4 separate regions of the Homo sapiens genome follow, and regions 1, 2 and 3 are each linked to region 4. The links come from fine-mapping of genetic effects on plasma protein levels. A gene starts in region 4. Each other region holds a variant in brackets. All regions are shown on one strand. Distances are from middle to middle. Region 1 overlaps CNTN2 (contactin 2). Region 2 has its middle 13 kb from the start of CNTN2. Region 3 overlaps CNTN2 (contactin 2). Region 4 holds the start of CNTN2 (contactin 2).

What was found. PIP is the posterior inclusion probability: the model's chance that the variant is causal. The UK Biobank Pharma Proteomics Project read protein levels with antibody pairs (Olink). The fine-mapping took linkage between variants from a reference panel, not from the people measured, so its PIPs are less certain.
Region 1: its variant is fine-mapped to the plasma level of the CNTN2 protein (UK Biobank, PIP above 0.99).
Region 2: its variant is fine-mapped to the plasma level of the CNTN2 protein (UK Biobank, PIP 0.98).
Region 3: its variant is fine-mapped to the plasma level of the CNTN2 protein (UK Biobank, PIP above 0.99).

The regions. Positions count from the first base shown.
Region 1 is chr1:205,069,290-205,073,303 of GRCh38, reverse strand. It overlaps CNTN2 (contactin 2), which reads right to left. Exons shown (of 23, transcript NM_005076.5): 17 at 3,743-3,813; 18 at 3,243-3,477; 19 at 2,766-2,878; 20 at 1,171-1,357; 21 at 709-821; 22 at 68-236. Among named protein-coding and RNA genes, the nearest start is that of TMEM81, 13 kb to the left of the region's middle. RefSeq lists an enhancer at 1-886. The variant A/G (reference allele first, on the strand shown) is at 890.
Region 2 is chr1:205,026,356-205,034,486 of GRCh38, reverse strand. No RefSeq gene overlaps it. Among named protein-coding and RNA genes, the nearest start is that of CNTN2, 13 kb to the left of the region's middle. RefSeq lists an enhancer at 7,887-8,131. The variant G/A (reference allele first, on the strand shown) is at 4,272.
Region 3 is chr1:205,064,524-205,068,523 of GRCh38, reverse strand. It overlaps CNTN2 (contactin 2), which reads right to left. Exons shown (of 23, transcript NM_005076.5): 12 at 3,774-3,901; 13 at 3,262-3,437; 14 at 2,615-2,735; 15 at 1,925-2,083; 16 at 1,274-1,423. Among named protein-coding and RNA genes, the nearest start is that of TMEM81, 18 kb to the left of the region's middle. The variant A/G (reference allele first, on the strand shown) is at 3,103.
Region 4 is chr1:205,040,046-205,048,176 of GRCh38, reverse strand. CNTN2 (contactin 2) reads right to left here and starts at 4,965. Exons shown (of 23, transcript NM_005076.5): 1 at 4,783-4,965. RefSeq lists enhancers at 464-968, 5,035-5,179, 5,127-5,271 and cis regulatory regions at 5,107, 5,199.

The DNA of each region.
Region 1 (4,014 bases), 27 kb before region 4:
GATCCTCTCAGGTATCTGGGTGGATCCTGAATCTCTCGAGGGGATAAGGGTAGGGGAGGAGCAGCACCTCCATTCCTCACGATGTGGACTTCTGCAGGGATCCCATCCCCTCCGGGCCCTGTGGTCCGAATTTGTACCAGGGCATGGCCAATGTCTTCAGGCACTGGGATTTCTATCCAGTTCTTGCCGGTGAGGTGGAGCGTGGGAGTCAGGTGTAAGTCATTCTGGTACAGCATCTGTGGGAAGGAGGTTTCCAGGTGGAGTTTCCTGACACCAGGGCTGATCGTTGAGTCATCCCCAGCTTTAGGTACTGGGAGGAGACCCGATGGTTCTGGGCTCTTGAGGTCCAGCCTCCTCACCCCTCCTCCCCATTGACAAAGCTCCTCATTGGTGGAGGAAAGCTTGCAGGCCACTGAACTGTTTCCGTAGACTCCTTAAGCTAGAAGAACCCCCATACTCCATCCCCATAGTCCATCACTGCCCCTGTGAACTCTGCCTTTCTGCAGTGATACCATCTGCCCGTTTTTATAGTTTCTACTGCAAGTTACTGAGAGAATAGTTCATGAATTTCATTCCTCTCACAGTCACAAACCCTTTGCTTATGTCTCACTCAGATGCCTCTTGCTATAAATTGCTGCTGCTTATGTTCACTGGAAACACAGAGGAGCTGTTCCTTCCCATTCTGGGCCTAGCTGATTGCTTCCTCACCTTATAGCCGGTGACTGCAGACTCATTTCGGAAAGGGACCACAGGGTCCCACTTAATGCTAAGACTAGAGCTTGAGAAAGTCCAGGAGATGTTGCCAGGAGGTCGCCGCGGAGCTGCCAGAGAGGAAGAATTGGAGAGATGTCCAAACGTTTCCCTGGCACCCCGCACCCCCTCACCTTTA[A/G]CCAGCCCTTCTCTGGATGTTTGCCTCTAGCAGTTACACCCAGCACATTCTGTCATGCCCACGAAACAAAGCCCATGAAAATCCAAAGGTTGGAGAAGTGTGAGACGCTTCAGGGGCCATGAATTCCATTCCCTTATTTCCATTAGGCTCGCTGCCTAATTTCTGTTCAGCCCAGAGCTGGTGGGCTAGAGCATTTGTCTTATCATTGGGGAAGGAATGATCTCAGAGGCACCCACCCTCCAAAATATTGCCCTACCCCCACCCCAGGCAGACAGACTCACGGGGCTTCATGGTCGTGGCGTTGGCAGAAGGGCTGGCAGGCCCAGTGCCAGCCCGGTTGTAGGCCCTCACGGTCACATGGTACTTGGTGTTGGGATGCAGGCCGCTGACTCGGGCACTGGTGTCCAGCCCTGCTGTCCTCACTCGGTCCGCAGCTGCTTCTTTGTCCCCAGCTTTCCAGTAGCGGATCTGAAGGAGGCGGGGGTACCCAAGGGGTAGTAGTCAAGCCCAGGATCTCAGGGCTGCCCCGGCCCCCACATTCTGTTCCTCTCTTGCTCATCCTGGTCCCTGTGACCCAGTCTTAGGCCTCAGAACCTGGAGACTAGATCATGAGCACCCAGACAGCAGGGCCATGTGGGTGTGAGTCCCTGCTGTCTGTTGGTGCGTAGTTCAAGGAAGGTGCTCAAGACATGGGTCAGGGAGGGAGCTGGTGGCACAGGCTCAACCTAGCAATGGCCTGCTGGAACCCATTTCATTTCATTAACTTGGGGGGCTACCGTGGGCATTCTGCTAAGGGACAGAAAATGCTTATTTGTATTGCAAAGTAGTCCCCTGGCCCTAAGCAAGCTTCTGAAGGTTGCCTAATAAATGCAAACCCATTTTCATGGTAATCATAGCATGAAGACCTGCTAAATATGCTTTCAAAGGCAGAGGCAAGGGCAGAGTTTGGAATTATCTCCACACTGTGGCTTGCCTAAGCTATTGTACTCAAATCTAGAGTACTCTACTAGAATGAACTTGTGCTATCACTAGTAGGCCCAGCTTGATGGTTTCTTCTTGCTTTTCCTTCTTTCTCTCCCTCTTGCTTCCCATCACTTGCCATCTGCTCCACAGGTACCCCTTTGTGGAGTTCTCAGTGGGCCCAGGACTCAGGCCAGACTGCTGGGCCCCAGATTCCCCCGGGACAGGATGATCAACTGTCCATAGAGCGGCTCAGGCTGTTTTCTGTGCAGCCCTGGACAGGCCAGCCTGAATGGGCTCTGGGATGAAAGGGGCAGGCCATGCCCCTTCCCAGAACCTGTTCCTTCTACCCTCTCAGCTTCCAATGCTGGCTCTAGCCAAGCATTTACTTTAAGGCTGCCTCCAGGGTCTGTCTTCCCCAATGGGCATAAGCCATGGGGTCTTTTTTTTTTTTTTTTTGAGATGGAGTCTCGCTTTGTCACCCAGGCTGGAGTGCAGTGGCGCAATCTCAGCTCACTGCAACCTCTGCCTCCTGAACGCAAGCGATTCTCCTGCCTCAGCCTCCTGAGTAGCTGGGATTACAGGCATGGGCCACCATGCCCAGCTAATTTTTGTATTTTTAGTAGAGGCGGGGCTTCACCATGTTGGCCAGGCTGGTCTCAAACTCCTGATCTCAGGAGATCTACCGCCTCAGCCTCCCAAAGTGATGGGATTACAGGCATGAGCCACCGCGCCTGGCCTGCCATGGGGTCTTAGTGAAATTTGCATTCACAGTGCTACACAGACTGGATGCTCAGTTTGCCATGTCAGCGAACCAGGGACGCCAGGAGGAATGATTAGTGGTCTGTGAGTTGTTCCCACCTGGCTTTGAAGCCCCAGCACCCCTTCCTCTCCCAAGTCCCAGGTTGGTGCTCACCTCATACCCCAGGAGGATACCATTCATGTCCTGCTGCACGGGTTCCCAGGTCACGTTCATCTCTGAGGATGAGACCCCTTTGGCCCACACCTTGGTAGGGGCCACCCTGGGCTCTGGGGACCAATACAGAATGGGTTTGGATTCCCAGGGCCCCCCTGTGTCCTGCAGAGCAGCCCCCAACCAGGATTGCCTTTGCTTAAGATTTTGGAGGAAAGCCTTCAGGATGAAGGCCGAGTGGGAGCCCCCCAAGCAATGCTCCAGGGCCCACTTCTATTCCCAGAGAGCCTCCCTTTTCCTAACCCCGAAGGGAGACAAGGTAGCAAGAGCTGGAAGTGAGGCCAATGATGTGGAACCCAGGTGTCCTCTCAACCTCCTCCTATGGAACTGAGCTGGGAGATGAGTAGCGTTCCCCCACCCCACATCCCTGTGGACAAGTGGCTGGGGTAGGGACGAGCAGGGGGCCCAGGGGCAGCCCACCTTCCTCAGCTGAGTACACGAGTGCAGTGAGGCTCTCGGGCCCATCCCCGCGGCGGTTGTAGCTGCGGATCTTGACCTCAAAGGGCGTGTAGGGCCGGACGCTCTCGTTGCTGTAGACAAAGTACTGGGCATCGGCGCCAGGCACCCGGGCGGTCTGCCAGTGAGTGCTGCCCTGCCTGCGGAAGGACAGCAGGTAGCCGAAGCCGTCTCCGTTCTGGTACTCCCGTGACATGGGCTGAGGGGCAAGAGCATGGCATGGGCGAGGGTCCGCGGCATGTGTCCCTGCCCGTTCCCTGGCCCCACCCAACCTTTGCCAAGAGTAGCGGCCCTGGACGCCTACGCCTGCAGCGTGGATTCGCGTAAGGGGCAGCGGGTGCGTGGAAGGGGGACAGGAAGTTATCCGCGTTTGAGTCAGAGCTGTGCAGTGGTCCTTTCTGCAGCTGCTCAAGCGGGAGAGGGGTCAGGGAGGAGGAGGAGGACATCTGACCCTTGCAGCTTACCGTCCAGTTGACGATGAGCTCTCCGGGGGCTCCACCTCCTCCGCTGAGTCCTGAGGGTGCCACCGAGGGGGCTGTCAAGGGCCAAGGGACACCGATATGGCTTGTTAATGAGCAAGGAAAAAATGAAAGCCCTGAGCCTGTGCCTGTAGAGCACCGTAAGATGGGAACCCCTTCAACTGGGCCCTGGGTTTGCCCCCCAGTGGTCCCTCTGAACATAGGCTTTGGAGTCAGGCAGTCCTGAAATCAAATCCCACCTCTGCCATTTACTAGCT
Region 2 (8,131 bases), 14 kb after region 4:
TCCTTCAAGACACAGTTAAAATGTTTTCTCATTCCCAAGCCTCACCAGGCAAATAAACAACCAATTGTGTTGGGGCACAAGTGGCTACTTCTCTCTCCACCCTGGGTGCCCTGGAGGCAGGACCAGTACCAACCTAAGTTGAGCAAATTACCCCAAAAAGCAGACGCAGAATTGCACCAGGGCACACAGCATGGAGAGGGAGCATGAGCCAGGTTTAACTCTTTATTCACTGCCTCAGCCAGGTGTCATCATGCAGGGCCCCTGGGAGAAGCTGTCCACCAGGGTCAGAGGATGAGCCTGAGCTGGCAGAGGCTGTGAGGTGGGTGCAGACCTCTCTGGGAGGTAGACTGAGGTCCAGGGCCACCTTTCTGGATCCCCAGCCTGTGTGTAGAGTCTGTGCTCAGAAGGGCCCCATGCTTGGTTTAATGCTTTTCTGCTGCTGTCTTGGAATTTACAATCACTTTTAAACAAGGGGCCTAGTATTCTCATTTTGCATTGGGCACTCACTGCAAGTTACGTGGCTGGTCCTGCTCAGGTCAGTGGGGTTTCCCCACTAAAAACAGTACCTGGAGTTACTGGGCCAAAGAATGATCTTCCTCCCTGTCCTAGAGGCGCAGGACTTCATTCACAACTTCAAACCCTGCCCTTGGCTTTGTTAATCTCCTAGGAGCCGGTCAACAGGGCCCCAGGTGTTTTGATCCCTCTGAGCTCCTGTAAGCCAGCGGCATAGAGTGTGCTAAGAATGCATTTTACATTTTTAAATGGTTGAAAAAATCAGAAGATGTCGCGACACATAAAAATCATATGAAATTGAAATTTCAGTGTTCATAAATAAAGATTAATTGGAACACAGCCACGCTCATTCATTTATATATTGTCTGTGGCTGCTTTTATGCCACATCGGCAGTCGAGTAGTTGCAACAGAGGCTGTATGAAGATATTCATTCAACAAAGCTGAAGATATTTACTATCTGGCTTTCTACAGAAAATGTTTGCTGATCCCTGGTTTAAGCCATGCCTCTGTCACCTGCAGCCTAGGAATCAGAAACCAGGGGGATGTCAGTCACTGACACTTAGGTGTTGGGTTTCTTTTTTGCCTTAGCTCAGTGGTTGTCAACTAGGGGGCCATTTGGCAAGGTCTGGCGGCATTTGTAGTTATCACAGTGGGAGTGTGTGTGGGGTAGAAGGTGTGTTGTTGGCATCTAGTGGGTAGAGGTGAGGACGCTGCTAAGCATCCTACAGTGCACAGGTCAGCCCCCACCACCTAAGAATTTCCCGGCCCGAAGGAGCCCCGTGCTAAAGCTTAGGGCAGGGCCAGGCCAGACTCCCAGTGGGTCTTATGGGCTGGGGAACTAGCCAGAACTTCACTGCTTTGGAATCAATGGAGCATTCCAAAGGCTGTATGTACCGAGGGAGGGGGCCCTGGAAAGGACCAAGCATGAGTCTTCTCCCTTCCTTGGCAGCCTGTGGCTCCTATACCTGCTAGGGGCCCTGGGCAGGCCTCAAATGGAAAACAGCCACTTTCCCTGCATTTCCCTAAGGAAGAGGATAGGTGCCCATCTGCTTGGCCAGGTGAGCTTGACCCCGGGAGGGGAGATGGCTATCGAGGCTGCCAACCGTGGTCATAGGAAGAGGTGCCAGGGGCCAGGGATGCAGAGAGGGAACTGGAGGTGCCCCCAGGGGACCAGGTGAGCAGGGTGTCCAACTCAGGCAGAAGGAACGTGAGGCTGGGAGAGCCTTGGGGAAAAGCTGGCACGGCTCCCACCCAACCTTCTGGAGAGTGAGAAGAACAGATGCTGTGGCTGTCAGATGAGATGCTCCTGGCACTTTGGGAAATGGCAGAATTAACAAAAGGACGGTTGCTTTCAGGGAACACAAGCAGGGGCGCAGTGTGTACAGCTGGGCTGGCCTCTGAGGACTCCTTTTCCTTGAAGGGCAAGGAGCAGAGGTCCTCTTGCCTGGCTTCTGGACTGGTTGTAGATTGGGGTGGTGGGGAGGGAGGATGGAGGCTGAGTCGTTGGACCTGGGGACAGAATGGGGTCAAGTTAGAGCCAGAGCCAGGGCCAAGGCTGTACATAGCTTGGAGTCTTGTAAATGGCAAGGCTGTCTGGAGGTCATCTCATCTATCCCTCTGCCTCTGGGTCCAGCCTCAGCAGATGGCATCTTGCCGGTGGAGGACCCAAGCAGAGGGGCCCTCAGCAGGAATGAGAATTCATCAGCTGTTACTTGCAAAGCCCCCAGAAGAAGCAGCCAGTTCTCTTTGGAAGCTGCATGGACAAAGAGGCACATGCCAGAGGGTCTGCAGGGAGCCTGCCTCTTCTCCTAGCGGAGAGTGGGCAATGGGAGTGATGGAGGCCGGGCACGGTGGCTCACGCCTGTAATCCCAGCACTTTGGGAGGCTGAGGCGGGAAGATCATGAGGTCAGGAGATCAAGACCATCCTGGCTCACACGGTGAAACCCTGTCTGTAGTAAATAATACAAAAAATTAGCTGGTGTGGTGGCGGGCGCCTGTAGTCCCAGCTACTCGGGACGCTGAGGCAGAAGAATGGCATGAACCCGGGAGGCGGAGCTTGCAGTGAGCTGAGATCGTGCCACTGCACCCCAGCCTGGGTGACAGAGTAAGACTCCGTCTCAGAAAAAAAAAAGAGTGATGGGAGCGGGTGTGGCCTCATCCTGGATGCTTACCTGACCTGGCGGAGAGGCGGGACGTTGTGATTAGCATTGTTTGGCTAGAGAAACTCAGGAAGATTTGGCATAGACTAGGCTAGCTGGGTCCCACTCAGAGGCAGGAGGATTAGACTCCATGCTCCTAAAATCCATTAAAAGAATAGGAAAAGAGAAGGAGGGTACGCGATTGCCCAAGTGTGGATGGTTTTAATTGCAATGCAGAGCTCATACAGACCCAAAGAAAACTCTTTCTAATGCTGAGGTGTGGGATGACAGATAAGAGGCCGGGGGTTGTGGCATTTTTCCCAGGACCTGCCTGCCTGGTCTGGTGGCCGCGGGCTGGCTAAAGTTCCCCTGGCCAGGGAGGTTGGGGTCACAGCTTTGTCCTTTCTGGCAGACCCATGGCTTCCTTGCTCCTGGAGCTGCAGCAGCTGAAGTATAGGGTGGGAGATGGGGCGGGGGAGCCAGGACTACCCTGCCCTCTGGAGGCCCTGGACATTAGCCCAGAGAGCCTTCAGCTGAGGAGGCTGCCTGCCCATCTGTGAAGTGCACTGGCCATGGGTTAAGCCCATAACTGGAGGGGTGAGCAAGGCCAGAGGGCAAGGGACAGCAGACGGCTCGGAGGGGTCACGGCCTCATTTGCTGGAGTGTCATCCCTCTCCCTGTCACAGGTCTCTATGGGGCCAGCTGACAGATGCGCCCTGGAGGAGGGCGGGGGGCCTCCTCCCCATGGCCGGCCTCCCCTCTCTCCTTCCCCCTTTCCTGCTGGCTTTCCCCGAAGCCACTGCATTGTTAGCTGCAGGCCTCCGGGGACAGACTTCAGATGGAGGGGAGCGGGTGTGTGTTTTGTTTTGTAGGAGGGAGTCTCTGAACCAAGAACCTATTTGGCTAATGAAGTCGTAATTACTCCCCGGCTCACTAATAGGATGAAAGCTGGGGACTCACTTAAAAGCCACTGATGGACCTGCGAGAGTGGTCTGAGGGCTCTGAGGAGGGGCTGGGGAATGGTAAATGGAAGGAGGTGCATGTCGGGGTTAGGGAGAGGGAAGAAAGGGGGTGTAGAGGCCCTGGTCTGGAGTCTGCTTCTGGGAACCAAAGTCACACCTACAAATTCTTCAGCTTAGCATGGGATGAGCTGCCTGAGATTTACCATCTTGCCTGTGCCTGCCTTCAACTTTCCCAAACTGGCCACAGCCCTAGCTGCCAGCTTTCATAGGAGGATCGTGGGCTGTGGAGGGTCTGGGGCAGCCGAAAATCCCAGATGATTGCTATTTGGCTTTGGAATGAGTCTATTTCTAAGTTTGTGTATTTTTTCCTCCCGGAAAAGCCCTCAGCTCTTTCAGATGAGGTCTGGTGGCCGTCATTTGAAATGTGAGTCTGCTTTCTCTGAGGACGCATTAGCTCATGTGGAAGGTGGGGGGGTACATTTGCTGTGCGGTATGGGAGCCAGTTTTGGATTTAGCACTTGGTGTGTGGAATCTGTAAGACAAGGGGACTGGACCTGGGCTTACTCCAGCCCTGACATTCCATGGGTCTGAACCACAGGCACATAATTGAGAGGGGACTAGGGGGTCTCCTGGGGTCCTGGGTGGGCCCTGTGCAC[G/A]TTCCCCGCAGTCAGCCAGCGGCCTCACCCATGCCAGCCACACCAGGGCACGCCCTGCAGAAAACTTGGGAAGGAGGTTGATGCAGTAATTTGGAAGGAAAGATTTTCTGTGTGTTTTTTGCTTTTCACGGAGATTGTTGCTGGGACTCGGTAGGGAGAAGGATGGAAGACGTGAGCTCCTCTGGGTCTTAGGGCTGACTGCATTGATGTCGGTCTTCGCCAGACCATCTTTCCCTGAGGAGGGGTGTTGTCAGTGTTGAGAAGGAAGGAACCCCGAATGCCTATGGCCCGGAAGAAGCTCTAAGCTTGGGAGTCAGGCTCCTATATCTTGGTGTAAAATGACCCCAGAGAGGTAACCGCATCCACATCCATGGGGACCCAGTGCTGTGGGGCTTGTGAAAAGGACATTGGCTGAGTCCTGTCCTGGGGTCATTCTTGGGGCAAACCCAGGCCTTTGGACATCCAGCCTTATCCTCTTCTGCCACACGGGTTGTTGGGTGAGTTGAGGGTCATAGTGTGTCCTAACAGCCAGGCTGGAGCTAGAAGGAGCAGGAGGGAGGGAAGTGAAGGATGGACTGTCCTTTCTGATGAATGACGGTGGGTTGCTGGCCTTTAACGGGAGGCAAGAGCACTTAGGGGACTTGGGGAAAGTTAATTAATGGGGCTGTAGAGTGAACCCCAGCTCTCAACACTCATCACTGGCCCTTACATCCAGCCACTTGGAACCTGGTAAACTTGCTTTTAGGAAGAGAAATATTGCCTGCCCCCTCCTCATCCCTAACCCCTATACACCATGGACTAAACCACTAGCCGGCCAATAAATACAGTAACGCAGACAGCTTGAATACAAATGGGATCTGGTTACCCTGCAGGGACTGCGGGTCCCAAGGATCAGTCAACATGTATTTATGGACCCCCACACACTATGTGTGGGGCACAGGACTGGGGGCCACAAAGGTACAAGAGGCATAAAGTACTGGCCCTGCCCTCCGCAGGTTTGCAGCCTGGCCAGATACAGGAGAAAGTCTCTGCAATGTCAGACAAGTCCCTGCTGGAGGAGCAAGAAGGTTGAGAAAAGCTCTCGAGAGAGCTAGCCCCGTGGGCCAAGGGGATTATGAGAAATGGATTTGAGCCTGCTTTGAAGGATTGGGAGGGTTTTTGAAGGAGGGTGTCGAGTCTGGAAGAACATTTGGGTAGACAGCAGAGGGGAAAGTGTAAAGTGATTCATTCATTTATTTAAATGTAATACATTATTATATAGTGCTTCCTATGCCTCAGACACTTTTCACATTTCAATTGATTTGATCCTTACAACAACCTACAAAGTAGCTACAATGACAACCCTTATTTTGTAGATGAGGAAACTCAGGCAAAGAGAGGTTCAGTCAGTTGCCTGAGGTCACACAGCTAGTGCCTGACCTGTCTGCAGAGTCCTGGCTCTTACTTGGTACTTAGGGCACATTTGCAGAAAGCTGAGCACCTGTAATTTGCTGCCCCCTCATCATGTGACCACGAGCTGCATGGCACCCACAACCTTCTCCTGGGGTTTCCTGGGGCATTCAGGAGCCTGCACGTCCTGCTACCCAGAGCGGAGGAGGGGGGCGAACGGTTGCGGGGACATGTTGGAGAGTTGGCAGGGGCTGCTCTGGCATGATGCCTTTGAGGCACAGGCACCAGGGCTGATTCTTCACAGGGAGGCCCATTCATACCCCAATCACAGTAGTGAAAGTGGAGGTTTTTTAGTCAGACCAAACTGGCAGCTAGTTCTGGCTTTGTCATTTACCTTGGGCAAATTATTCTGCTATTTGGGCCGGGTGCAGTGGCTCACGCCTGTAATCCCAGCACTTTGGGAGGCTGAGACGGGCAGATCACCTGAGGTCAGGAGTTCGAGACCAGCCTGGACAACATGGTGAAACCCCGTCTCTACTAAAAATACAAAAATTAGCTGGGCATGGTGGTGGGCACCTGTAATCCCAGCTACTTGGGAGGCTGAGGCAGGAGAATCGCTGGAAACAGCAAGGCGGAGGTTGGAGTGAGCTGAGATCATGCCACTGAACTCCAGCCTGGGTGACAGAGTGAGACTCTGTCTCAAAAAAAAAAATTATTCTGCTATTTGGAGTCACAATTTCCTCATGCAAAACAGGATGTAAAGCTACCTACGTCAAAGGGCTGGTGTGCAGGCTAAAAGAGAGCATTGGCATGAAATGCACATCACTGTGCCTCATGCAGTTGGTTTCAACAATATTCGTTCCCCTTCTCCTCTTAAGTCACTTACATGTAAATGTGTTGTGACCCAAATACCATCTGGTGCCTTCTTGCCTCTTTGACAGTAATGTATAAACAGCTCAGTCCCCTGCCAATTCCATGGACTGTGAAAGTCCAAGCCCCCCTCACCATTTTTGCTAATTCCTGGGGGTTCATGCTCTGACCCCTCTATTCTTCTGCAGTCTCTGTGCCCTGCATCAATTTGGATGTAAAGTCCAGCAACTTTGCTAGTTTGCATAAAACATCCATTCACAAGAAGCAAATTCACAAATGTAGTAGGCTTGATTGCCAATTCGGGGGACGTGAAGAAGGGTCACATCCAGGCATACACAGGTTTTTCAGTGTGTCCCTCTCATCTAGGGGCCTCAAACATGATGCCTGCATCAGCATCACCTGGAGGGTTTGTGAGAACACAAATCCCAGAGTTTCTGATACAGTAGATATAGGGTGAGGCCCAAGAATGTGTTTTTTAGTAGAGAAGGGGTTTGTTTCACCATGTTGGCCAAGCTGGTGTTGAATTCCTGGCCTCAAGTGATCCACCTGCCTCAGCCTCCCAAAGTGCTAGGATTACAGGCGTGAGCCACTGTGCCCAGCCAAGAATGTGAATTGCTACAAGTTCCCAGGTGGTTCTGATACTGCTAACAAGTTCCCAGGTGGTTCTGATACTGCCGGTCTAGGGACCACCCTTTGAGAACCACTCCTCTAATCTCCTTTCTGCTGTTTCTTGCTCCTCAGTTGCTGCCCCCTGGATTGCCCTGTAGGTCCAAAATCTCCCCCTCTCTATTATACAAAGCTCTCCCCAGATGCTATCTGCAACCTCTGTACCCAGATCAAGCCTGGACCCTTGGTTTACTAGGATTCAGCCTTTTGAGAAGGTATTTGGGGTTTTAAGCACAGGAGATGTCCTTGTGTGTGTTTGTTTCAGTGTGGAAGAATCCCGTCCTCTAGCTTCTCACTCTCTGCAGTTGTCTCTGCGCGAAGCTGAGCAGTCAGAACTCCTGTTTGGGTTCAGTGTGGGTGAGGTGAGTTTCCAGTGAGCCCCGGCCAGGGCTGAGGGTCTGTGTGCAGACCTTATCAGACTCAACCGAGTCCCAGGTCTACACAAAGCCATGCTTCTTGCTGGTGGTGGTTGGGGGGGTGGTTGGGGTGTGTGTGTGGCTGGGGCTAATCAGCAGCAAATTCTGGGGTGGGAGTAGGAGTGAGGGTTGGGGGCTGGGGGCTGGGGCTGGGGGCTGGGGGCTGGGCTGTCGGGCCACAGCTGTGGCTCTAAATTGCTCTGAGGCCCACTGCCTGGTCGGTGCTCCAGCAGGAACTGACATCAAACAAATGGGCTCTGATGCGTTAAGTGGGGAGGGGGATGCTGAAATGGGTCCCCCTCCCCCGCCTTTCTCCACCTAAAATAATGTTGGACAGGAGAGGCCTCCTTGATGAGAAAGGCTGTAATGAATTCCCAGATTCCAGCCCTTTGTGGGCAGCTGGGCAAGAGGGGGCAGAGCCTTCACTCTTAATAAAGATGGGAAGATGGCTTGTGCCCTCCCCACTGGGCCTGTTAATCCCACTCCAAGCTGGAGATTAGCATTTCTAATGGGCTGGGA
Region 3 (4,000 bases), 22 kb before region 4:
GGAGTCCCCTCATTTCTCCACATTTGACCCTCCAAGAAGTTCAGGATCAATCAAAGAAAGTGCTGCCTCTGGAATTTCTTACTCAGGAGAGGTACCAGCTAAAAATGTTGAGTGATTCTAGAAAAAGGGCCTGGAGAGTCAGTCTGGGGCATGTAGGAGAACATGTTTCAGGCAGACAAGAAGGTGGACCCTCACTACACATCCAGTGCAACAGGTCTGTAGAGGAGGTGAGGCAGGGTCCTTAATCTATGCTCCTGGTCCCAGGATCCCCGGGCTCTCATTCCAGGCCTTCCCCTGCGAATGGCTCGGAGATGGGCAGGAGCCTCTCAGCAGATGCTGACTGGAGCCTGTGCCTCCCCTACTCTCTCCTGGGTTCTTTTCTCCCCCTCCTTCTCCACTCAAGTTCTGACACCCACACGCTTTTTGCTGAGGGTTGTGGGCAGGTTATTCAATTCCATCTGCTCCCAAAGAAACCATCTAAAGGCTTGGAGACACTGGCTGCTTCCCTAGCCCCCTGCACAGAACACACACACATCTTTCACATCAACTGATTTCCTTTTTTTCTTTCTTTTTTTTTTTTTTTTTTTTTTTTTTTTGAGATGGAGTCTCGCTCTGTCGCCCAGGATGGAGTGCAGTGGTACAATCTTGGCTCACTGCAACCTCCACCTCCCGGGTTCAAGCGATTCTCCTGCTTCAGCCTCCCGAGTAGCTGGGATTTACAGGTGTGTGTCACCACGCCTGGCTAATTTTTGTATTTTTAGTAGAGACGGGGTTTCACCATGTTGGCCAGGCTGGTCTCAAACTTCTGACCTCAGGTGATCTGCCTGCCTCGGCCTCCCAAAGTGCTGGGATTACAGGCTTGAGCCACTGCGCCCAGCCAGCATTAACTGATTTCTGTAGTGCATACTCTTCCAGGAAGACATCTGTCTACCACCCCATGGTCCTGGGTTCAAGTCCAAGCTCTGTCAATGTGACTCTTCCTTTCTCCGAACTTTGGTTTTTCCACTTTTAAAAATTAAACTTAAAAAAATTATAGATGCACATGCAGTTGTAAGGTTGGCCAGTTTTTAAATGAGGAGTTTGGACTAGATGGTTTGTCCATGCAGTGGCCCTGGTCCCAACTTGGTGTTCTGTCCTCCTCTGTTTTGTGAGAGTCTGAACCCTGTGAGCAGGGTTGGAACTCAGCATAATTGCGGCTGGCTTGGCATTCCCTATAAGTGGTGCCAGGGTCTCTGCCCTGATGATAGCTTTTTGGGACACACAGGACTCTCACCTGCTTCCCTGGTCCGGATTTTGCTGGAGGGCCCACTAGGCTCCCCAGTGCCCAGAATGTTGCTGGCTATGACCCGGAACTCATAGTCCATCCAGGGGGTGAGGCCCAGCACCTGTGCAGTCTCGGCATTGCCCTCGATGTTTGCAGGATCTGCAAGGCACCAGGGAGTCCATATTCCAGCATTCGCTTATTCATCTGGGTGCAGAGGGCAGGCACTGGCCTGAATCACCCCTTATCTACCCAGCCCTCACTTCGGTACTTGCCATATACTAAGCACTCAGTACCTTTTTCAGAAATGATTGAAAAACTACTCAATTTCCCTATCTTGGTGCCTCTGCAATGCTGTGTGCACGCCTACGCCCCTATGTCCCCATGAATATTTTCATTGCTCCAGTAACAATCCTACCAATTCTTCAAGGGCATAGACCAAGCGCCTCCTCTTCTAACTCTTTCCCGACTCTCCTACTTTCTGTGTGACTGTCTTCCTGCCTGCCTGCATGCTCTCTGCTGGCAGAGGACAGATCTTGTCCCTCTTTGAAGCTCCAGGCTCAGCCCTGGCCCTCAGACCCCGATCCCCAAACCTTGACCCTTTCCACCTCCTACACCCAGTCGAGCCTTATCAGCACTGACCCAGGTGGGGCTCACACTTACTGGTCCGAACCTGCTTCCACTTCCCTGCAGGTGGAGTGCGAGCTTGCAGGGTGTACTTAGCGATGGGGCTGTGGTTGTCGAAGCCACGGCTCCAGCTGAGCTGGATGGTGGTGTCGCCAATGTCCCTCACCACCACACCTCCTGGGGGACCTGGCGGACCTGCACCAAGAGGTCAGAGCACAGTGGGTCAGAATTGGGCAGCTTCCAATTTGAGCCAACCTCCTCCCAGCCAGGCTTGAGCTGGTACAGTACCAAGACAGGGCAGCAGAGGATGCAGTGAACACACACCCAGGCGGGAGGGCGGGCAAGGGGTGTGGGCAGTTGGGGCGGGTGCCAGTTGTTGGGTGGAGGGATGTGTCTCAAGGCTGGGGGAGCTCACAGAGGCTGTCACATGGAGAGGTGCATAGATCTCCCAGCACTAGGCTTTGAAAACTTCAGGGCTCAGTAAAGCACTCCTGTCTTGGGATGTGTTTAGGAGTGGATTTTTTAAACTTTGACTTTGGAAGAAAAATGTCCTGATCATTTAGGACCTGTGAAGAACCACAGGGTATATCCAGCTCACAGGAGTTCCGCCGGAAGCCCTTCCCCGCAGCTTTGAGGGAAGGGAGGGGAGATGAGGCGAGCAGGTCAGAACAGCCCAGCTGGGTTTTAAGGGAGTTGGGGTAGGGGTAGAGGTGGGAAACCCCTCACCTCGGACCAGGACTGTGGCCTCCTTGGACGCGCTGTCCACCACCGTCTGGGCCATGCACGTGTACTTCCCCCCATGGCGCAGCTGGGCGTTCAGGATGGTCAGATCCCCAATGGTCTCCTTCTGCACACGGGGACAGTTAGGGGCAGCAGGTCAGACCACCGGCCCTGACCAGTGCAGCAGGCCATGAGACATGAGGCAGCGCTTGGGAGTCCCCTACTCCATGACATCCATGGACCCCACTGGATCTCAGTTTTCCTGTCTGCTCAATGGGAGGAATCACGACTCATCACTTAGAACCACTGGGGACTAAACAGCAAAGTTTGTTTCAGGAGACAGTCAATGACTGTCCACATTAATAATATCATTTGCCCTAGGGGACAGGCTAACAAGAACAGTAGTGGGAGTGTCTTGGTGGCTGCCCACAACTCCAGGTTTGTCCCTAACCCTCTCCTAAATGCATGGTCCCTGGGTGGAATCCAGGAAGGTC[A/G]GCTGTTCATCCAAGGATGAGCTTGCCATGTGTGGGCCTGAGGGAATGGGGGCGCTTAGGCTATGGGTTTCTTAAAGGTGAGGATGGCTAAGGACATCTTGGGGCCCCTGTCTCTCTAGAAGGAGGGAGAAGCCATGGGGCTCTGGCCCTAGGTCTCACCACATTAGTTCTCCGGTAGTGCCCTCCAGGCTTATCAAAGTCGATGGGGAAGTCGTCCAGGGTCCAGGTGAAGGTGAGGTCCATGGTGGGGTCGTGGGAGGCATGGCACTGTAGGGTCAGGTTGTCACCCAAGTTGATGTCGGCACTTGAGGGGGCTAGAGTGATTTTGGTTGCATCTGCCAAGAAAAACAAGGCCCTTGGGTGGATGGGGGAGGAAATGGGCCCAGGCCGGGTCCGCAGGGCAGGCTGAGAGGCTCTGTCCTAAGGCCCAGCAAAGAGAAGAGGTGGTGTGACCCACAGGTCCCAACTGCCCAGGACTGCATGAGTGTGTGGCAGGCAGGGAGGCATGACCAGAGTCTCAGTGGTGGCCAGGGGGTGGTCCCAAGCAAAACTGAATCCTGGGGTGGCCTTGACACCAAACTAGGAGCAATGTGGACACAGGAGCAGGATGATGGGGAGGACAGTACCCTGAGGAGGCTGAGCCCCCGGCCTACCCACATGGCAGCCCTCACCTCGCACAGATAGGATTCCAGTGCTGTTGGCTTTGCCCATGAAGTTCTCAGCAAAGCAGGTGTATTTGCCTTCATCTGACCGGCTGATGTTTCTTATGATCAAGGTGCCATCTGGAGTTACAGTCACTCTGTGGCAAGGACAAGGCAGATGTGGCCAACTCAGGCATGGTTGTCCCTGGGGCTGGCCAACTCCTGTGACTGTTGTCACAGGAGGGGAATTGGCCTCC
Region 4 (8,131 bases):
GAGAGATTTGGCAACTTCCGATGGATGGTGGTAGCAAAGGGGAGTTCAGAGCCCAGCTGTGGGCAGAGACTAAGTGATTTATTATCAGCCTACAAAGTACTTGAGGAGCCCTTCAGGCCCCCGCTTGACCTCTATCCTATAAAACAGCACACTGGTTAACAGGGCAGGCCATTGAGTCAACCTGCCTGCTGCTGTCTAGCTAGTATAACCCTAATAAAACTAACTAGTATAACCTGGTTATCACAGTCGTTACTTAACCTCTCCCAGCCTCACTCTCCCATCTGCAAGAATGGGATGAGAAGGGCAGGACCCGCCCCATGGGGCTGCTGTGAGGTCAGCACCATCACAGGCTCATAGTGAGTGCTCAGGAAAGATCAGATCTTAGAACTGAGAAATCTCACAGCCGTGTGTCCGCAGCCACTGTGCCTGTCTGGCTTACTTCTATACAGTCACAACGTCCAGGCGGCACTCATATGTATTTAGGAGACTGACAAACCCACAATCTCCTGGGCAGGTGCCTCCCTCCTCTTACGCCTCAAAGGTGCAATGGTCATAGGTAAGCACTAGCACAGCACCCCAGACTAGGGCACAAGGACACAGCCCCCATGCCAGAGTTATACCTGGTACAATGTGCTCAGGGGGTCACGCGGCCAGGACAGGCACTCCCAAGCAGGTACTCCTTCTCAACAGCCCTCACCTCCTGCCTGATGGGATCTAAGATCAGTACCTTTTCCTTTGCCTAAGACAAGAATTGCCTCCTGGGACAGCACCATCATCCTCCAGGAAGGTCTGAACCATCCCCATGCCCCTCTGGTCAGTACAGGGCTCTGTGGTGGCGTGGGTGAGGGCTGCTAGGATCTCAGCGGGCCAGGCCAGGCTGCAGCTGGCAGGGGTGGGGTGAAGGATTGTGACTGAGGGGTCTCTGTGGTACCCTGAGCTGGAGACATCCTTAGGGCAGAAATGGGGACATAGGGACCTCCTCAGCCCCAATGGGGACCAGGGGTGTCGTGCAGCCCCGTCCTTCCTTAGTCCCCTCTGTGAGCTGCTCAGCTCTCTCTGCAGGCTCTTTGTGATTGCAGCTGCTTCCCCGAGGCCCAGCCCTGGTGCTGACGTGCCCTCTGGGGAGAGCTGTGGCTCCCAGGCTCATGGATTTGTTTGATCTTCTAGCATTGGGCAGGGGGGAGTCTGGCCCTTGATCTGAGCCTAGAGTCTTTGCCCCTGCAAGAGAGACCTACTCTAACAGAGAGACCCTTTAAAGTAGGGAGTGGACAGAAGAAGAGAGGCTTCCATCCTCCTGGGAAGCTCAGGATCAGAAGCCAGCCACCCCCAGACCTTAGGTTTTCCTACTTGCCTGCCCTGCTCTGTGTGTGGTGTGAGGCAGTGAGTGAGGGCTTTAGAAGGATCCCTTTTTGAGATGCCAGGCGTAAGAACAATGGTTTCAACTTGTTTCTGAAAAAGCAAATCAGGAAGAAAATTTCCTCGTGCATTAGCAGAGCAATTTCTGCTTGTCCCCCAACTCTGCTGCAAGGAGGCTCCCCCCAGTTCCTAGACAGCTTCCTCCAGGGTGGCTCAGAGCTTAAGCCTGGTGGGGGTGAGGTCCAACCTGCTCCTCCTCTCAAGCTAGTTTCCTTTGGATTTGGGGTCCAGATTAACTTCACCTCTTGGGCAGCACTGCAGGAAGGCTGCCCTCCAGCCAGGCACAGGGTGGGAGAACCCCTTGGTCAGGGTGTTCAGGGTGGCAGGCACTGAGAAGATGTGGGCTTAGGCTGGAGGAAGCCCAGCAGGTTTGACTAGATGGGTGTGTGTGAGGGGCTGGGGTTGACTTCCCCACCTACGTAGTGAACTGAATGTCTCATTAGGTAAAAAGGACACTGAGATGCGTTTGGGCCTGAGTGTGTCCTGGGATGGGAGGTGTTCAGGTTTTGGATGAGAATATCACACTCCTTGCTTTTGTTTGCATTCTCTTTGGTAAACAAAGAAACATGGGCTAATCTTGTAGCAAGGAATCATCAAACTAAGAAAGGACTTACTCTAGGATGGTTACCGTCAGGATACGGAGCCCACAGAAACTCCCATAAATGTTCCAGGTTAGCAACAGCCTCTGGGTGGTTTGTTTAGATTGGGGTTGTAGTCCTGAAGGATGAGGGGGTGGCCAGCATGCATGAGGGGATGAAAAGGATGTCTGCCTTCTTATGGATTCCTGAGTCACATCCACCTTTTACCATTTGAAAGAGGATTACTAGAAGTTGGAAGAAATTTACAGGGTCAGCCAGCCCAACCTTTGCCTCTAGGCAGGACTCTCTAACCTTGGACCAGACCCCAGTTCTCCACACCATCCTTAGAGTCATCTGAAAGGAGACTGCCCCACCTCCTCATGGCTCACTCTTCTAGCCAGGAAGTGTCTCCTGCAGTCTAACTTAAGTCCCTCTGGCTTCCCTGGCATATTCTTTGCTCTGGTTCTTCCTCCCCTGCATATCAATCACCTCTTCTCCAACCCCCTGGTTCTGCCCTAGGAATCCCTCCAAAAATACAAATACCACCCACACTCAGGCTTAGAGATTGTCTTTGAAATACGCTTTCTCACCAACGTTTGGCTCAAGGAGGTTTCTGAAGAGGGCACCATGCATCCTCCAAACCACCCCAAATGCGTTGCTTCCCTGGTGACTTTAGAGGCAGAAAGGATGCCTTGGGGTACACCTGTCTATGTACATGCTCCTAAGGAGTAAGTTTGGTCAGCCAGAGACGAGATGTGCAATCACCCCGTTAAGCACAATTCCTCGGAGGCCCATCCCACATGTGTCTCTATTTGAACAACTGCTGGCAGAGAAGGTGCTGGAATGGAGTTGCATAAGGAGTGAAATCTGGCAGGGGAAATGGTGGCGGCGGGAGGCTGAGGGCTGAAGCCGGTGGAGTACACGCGATGAGAGAAGGGAGTGCGAGGAAAGAAGGAGTAGAGGAAGGGAGGAGAGTAAGAGAGAAAGAGCCGGGAATGAGAGCAGACTCCTGGAGTCTGAGGCACTCATCTGCATAAGGAGTGTGCCTCTGCTTCCCTCACCGCTCATGGTGTGAGCACAGTGGTCTCTGCACCTGTGAGGCAGGTGGACCTTGGGTGACTTTGACATCATCAGGTCAGGGGCCCTTTCCTGTCTGTCTCACCTCCTGCCTCCCTCTTATTCGCTGAGGACTTCCACGGGAGATTAGGAAGGACTCTGACCTTGTGGCAAAAGCCCTGTCCATGGTTCTGCAGCTTGGCTAGAAAGGGGTTAACTGGTGGGCACCCTGGGGAGGGGCTTGGATGCTGCTGTCTTTAAGGGGAGAGCTCCCTTCTCCCAAGGCCAGGAGTGAGGGCACCTGTTGTGACCTCCAGGCCATCTCCCTGTCCAGGTGCGATCACAGCAGCCTCTCCCACAGGTGGCCCACCTTTTGCTGCACTCGATCTCCAGTGGCTCATCCGGCCCCTCTGAGTGGGACCAGGAGGTAGAGAGACTCGGAGGCTAAGTGAGCTGAGGCGTCTTTGGCCAGACGGTTGGGAGAGGAGGCCGAAACTGTTGCCCAGACGAGACCAGAACATCACCTGTGCACTGGGTTTCTTGGGCTGTTCCTCCTCCCAGCTCCTTCTGAGCAGAGGGAAAAGATGCTGAAACCCACCTTTCTCCAGGGCTGGGGCCATGGCATGCACAACCCCACTCCCTCCTGGCCTCACTGGACCCCCCCCCCCAGGACACAGGCTCAACCCCCAGGGGTCTGGGGCTAGAGGGTGCCCGTCTCCATCCCCAAGTAGCAGCAGGATTCTCCCCTTCCATAGGCACTGCCTTCTCCATGCCCCGCTGCTTCCCAGACCTGAGAGACCCTCTTGGAGAAGGTGACAGGATTCAGCTCTGGACACTCACTGGCTGGGGCTGCCCCCCACCTCCAGCCCATTATGTAAGCCCCACGGTGCTGGGCAGAAGGATTGCCCTCTCTTTCCAGAACTCCCCAGCTCTGCCCCTTCCCTTCCCCATACCATTCTGGCCCCAGCCCCTTTCCTTACTGGAAAGCCAAACTTTGTGCAAATTCTTCCCTCCCACCAGTGAGGATGGGGGGGAGGGATTTGAGGAGAAGCTAAGGTTGGGAGGGGGAAGGGAAGGAAAGGAATTTCAGCCCGGTAGCCCCAGCCTCTCGCCCTTTGGGATGTGACTGGCCTCAGGACTCTCCTCCCCGAGTCCCAGTTCCTGGACAGGCCCTTGCCCAAACTTGTGCTCCACTCTCCCCTCTCTCTTCCACAGCCCCCCTCTCCATCCAGCTGAAGCAAGACTTTGCAAAGAGGTCACCCTGCAGAGGTAGACCCTGGGTGACCTCAAAACTGGGGACTCCGGCTCAATTCCATGCAGGGACTTCTGGGGCAGGCCAGGGCCCAGGGCCTGGCTGTATGGACTGGTCCTGTCCTGGACCGGGTGCCCAGGGCCGGCCCAGGAGAAACTGCCCTCTCCACAGGCAGCTGCCACTGCCCGCTGGCCAACTGGAATTCCTGGACACACTCCTGGGGTCCAGCTTTTCGGCCAGGCTCGGCCTGAGAGAGCCCTGCGGGATGCCGCCCACGTAGACAGGGCGGAGGGGAGCCCCAGCACCCACCCTGGGGCTGAGGGGAGAAGTCAGAACGGCCCCAGCCTGCCAGTGTTCCTGTCCCTGTTCCCTCCCAAGTTACAAGGGGGATATTTACAGGAACTGAGCCGGGAGCCCCGGCCCATAACAGCACGCAGGGAAGTCCCTGGGTTGGAGGAGACAAAAGCGGTTGGCACCTACCTGGGGCGAGAGAAGGGTGTTGGCTGGGGCAGGTGGATGCTGCCCGAGTCGGTGAGCCGGGGCCGGCCGGGCCGCCAGCCCCTGTCTGGGCCGCTGTCCTTTGGGCCCTGGCGGCCTCAGCCGCTCGCTGTCCGGGTGCGGCGGCGGCCGCGGCGGCGGTGGCGGGTGAGGGCGCGTGTGTGTGAGCGCGCCCGGAGCCACTGCAGCATCTCTGCATCAAGATGTGCTCCTCCCTCTCCCAGGCTCCGCTCACTGGCTGGCTCTGGTCCTCAGCCAACGCTCGGGGGCCCTGGAGATGGCTTCCTTCTGCCCCCCTCCCACCCCACTTCCGTCCCCACCCTCCTGGCTTTACCTCATTTGCTGTCATTTAAGGACCAGGGAGCGAGCCCAGCGCGCGTCTTCCATAATGCATGGGCCGCTCATGGACAGGCCGCGGGGCGCTGTCTGGCCCGCCTGCCCTCCCGATCCTGCCCAGCCCCACTTCTAGTCCCCCTGCCCAGGGCTGAAGGGGCAGGAGAGGGGCGGGGTGAAGAGGGAAAAGAAAGTGGCTCTTACTCCTCAAACCCTGGAGACCCATGGAGCCAAAACTCCTGGTTTCCCCAGAAATCCCCTATCCGAGGAAGAGATCCAAATCAGAAATCCCAGCTTGCTGTGTGGGGCAAGTGGCAGGGAGGGGCTGTCTCTGTTGCCCGGTCCACCCCATGTTCCTCTTTATTGTTTCCCTTGTTCAAAAGTAGTTTGAGCTTTTTGTCAAAATATCTAAATATTAGAGGACATTTAAAAATACATAGTGAAAGTCCCTCAACCACTACTCTTAATAAATCTAAGTACATGCCCCCAGGTTTATTATTTTCGTGTATACAATTACATGGGTTAGTAGGGTTATTTCACACAAATGTGATTACATAAAACAGTAGGATTGGCCAAAGACTTTTAACTGTGTAACTGATCTTGGACACTTTTACGCATCAGTACGTTTGGATCCAATCCCATTTTTAAGCAACCAGCAGTGTGATGTCATGAAAAGCTCCCTGGATTAGGGGTCTGGGTGTCTGAAGCATACTCTGGGCTCCACAACCGACTGGCTGTGTGTGCTTGGCTAGGTGCCCTGCCCTCTCTGAGCCTCGCTGGTACCTGAAGGGATTAAAGATGGACACAGTCCTGCCAGCTCTGAGATTCTAAGTGCTCACCCTTGTCAGCGATGCCTTTCTCCTGCCCTGCTCCGGTCACGTGGGGGAGTGCCCAGGAAGGCTGTGGCCCGGAGGCGGAGGGACCAGCCATCTGCGGCACCAGTCGGCCCTGTCAGGCTGTCACTGTTGTCTCACCCCCCTCTGATCTGCCTGCTGTCCAGCTTGCACAGGCAAGACCGGTGAGCAGTCCAGATGCTGCAACAGCTGGCAGGGCCAGGCCAGCCTCCCAGTTTTAAATGGCTATACCTGTCAAGCCTGGATCATGGCTCCATGTCTCCCTGAGTGGAGGAGGTCCTGGGGACCTGGGCCAGAATGAGAGGGTCTGGAAAAGGAGAAGGAGTCGGGGAGGTTCTGCTGCTCAGCCTCCAAGGCTGGAATGTCTGCCCAGGTCCCACATGCGCTCCCCTCCTTTCCTTCTGAGCCCCTCCAAAGGGCTTGCCCAACTTGAGAGATAGTCTTCTTTGTTCCTGATGGGGAGGACTTGGATTTTGCTAATGATGTTTCTTAAATAATGTTGAATGCTGTTATATAGACAGACACATCAACCCCTTGCCAGGATATCTTTCCCTTCCTTCCCCTGCCCACACTGTCCTTGCCTATCTGTATGTCTGAGGGCTGGCACATTGGCTCTGAGCTCCTGAGGTGAACCTTGCTCTTTGGCACCATTCAAGTCAGCCTGGGCTCCAAAGAGAGGCTCTGCAAGTTCTCTCCTAGCAGAAAACGGCAGGAACAAGTCCTTGCCAAGAAAAGGATGCTATGTCTGCTGCAGGGGGCTGACGGGCCAGGAAATAGGCTGGCCCAGGAACCAACAGTCTGGAAATGCTTGCAAGGATTGCTTTAGACGGAGACAGCTGTCTTTGTGACTCTATTTTAGGACAGCTGCTGCCCTGTGGTGGGAGCTGGGTCTCTGGGGAGGGTCGTTAGCACAGGTGACTTGGGTCTTAAAGACTCTCAGATCTCAATGCAACCAGCATGCTCCATGTGGACTCTGGCAGACACAATAAGTGAAAACAAGAACATTTGCCAAGCCTAGACTTGGATGGGGAGACAGTTCCCAAAGTCTCATCTTCTCACTTGTCTGAAGCTCTCAGTGAAGTCTAGTATGAATGAGTTTGGGGAGATTAGGGGGATCTGCACTCCCAGTCTCTGAGATGCTCCTGTTCCTGAGGAGAGAGTGGGGTGGGCATTTGGGGGTGCAGGCTGAGTTTTGCTTGTGGGGCCCATTAGCTTGATAATAACAGAAATAATATCTGTTTTGAATGCCTCCCACATGCCGGGAGCTGTGCTAAATGCTTTACCTGAATTACTTGCGCAAGAGGTCCATGTTGTTATTATCCTCACTTTTCAGATGTTGCTCAGTAAGAGTAAGGAACTTGCTCAAAAGAAATAGTAAACAAGTGGAACCCTGGGCAACGTGGCGAAACCCCGTCTCAACAAAAAACACACAAAAATTAGCCAGTGTGGCAGTGCACACCTGTAGTCCCAGCTACCTAGGAGGCTGAGGTAGAAAGATCACCTGAGCCTGGGAGGTTAAGCCTGCAGTGAGCTGTGATCGTGCCACTGCACTCCAGCCTAGATGACAGAGTGAGGCCTGGGATCGGCCTCCAGCATCCTGGCTTAGCCACCGTGCCATGGACTCCAGCTACCTACTGTCTGTTCTTTTGAGGTGGGCAAAATAGGGGGCAGAACAGTTTCTTCTTCTTTGGTGACATCCAGAGCCCACAATCTTCAGTGCAGCTGACCATAAGGGCCACCTCTCCTTTCTGTGGCTGATCAATATGACTCCATGTTGTCCAGAGCTGGGACTCCACATCTCAAAGTTGAGTCCCCACAGACTTTCAAACAGGGCAAGAAAGGGCCAGTGAAGATAATCAGGTGGCTAGTCAAATGGCTTATAAATTTGTCCGCAAACATGTGGTGCTCCCTTGGTGGTGGTGGGTGGGGATCAGAAAGCATTTTGAGGGCCACCCAACCCTGCCCAGACCATCTGCTTCTTCCTACTGTAGCCACACAAGATTGATAGCAATGGAATCCAGTGGGTCTCTAACCGATCAAGAAGGGACCTCTAGGCCCCATCCCTGGGGACAAGTGGGGAGGAGATGAGACCCTGCCATGGCCCCAGGATGCTGCAGCTTTGCTGTCTCTTTCCTCACCACTCC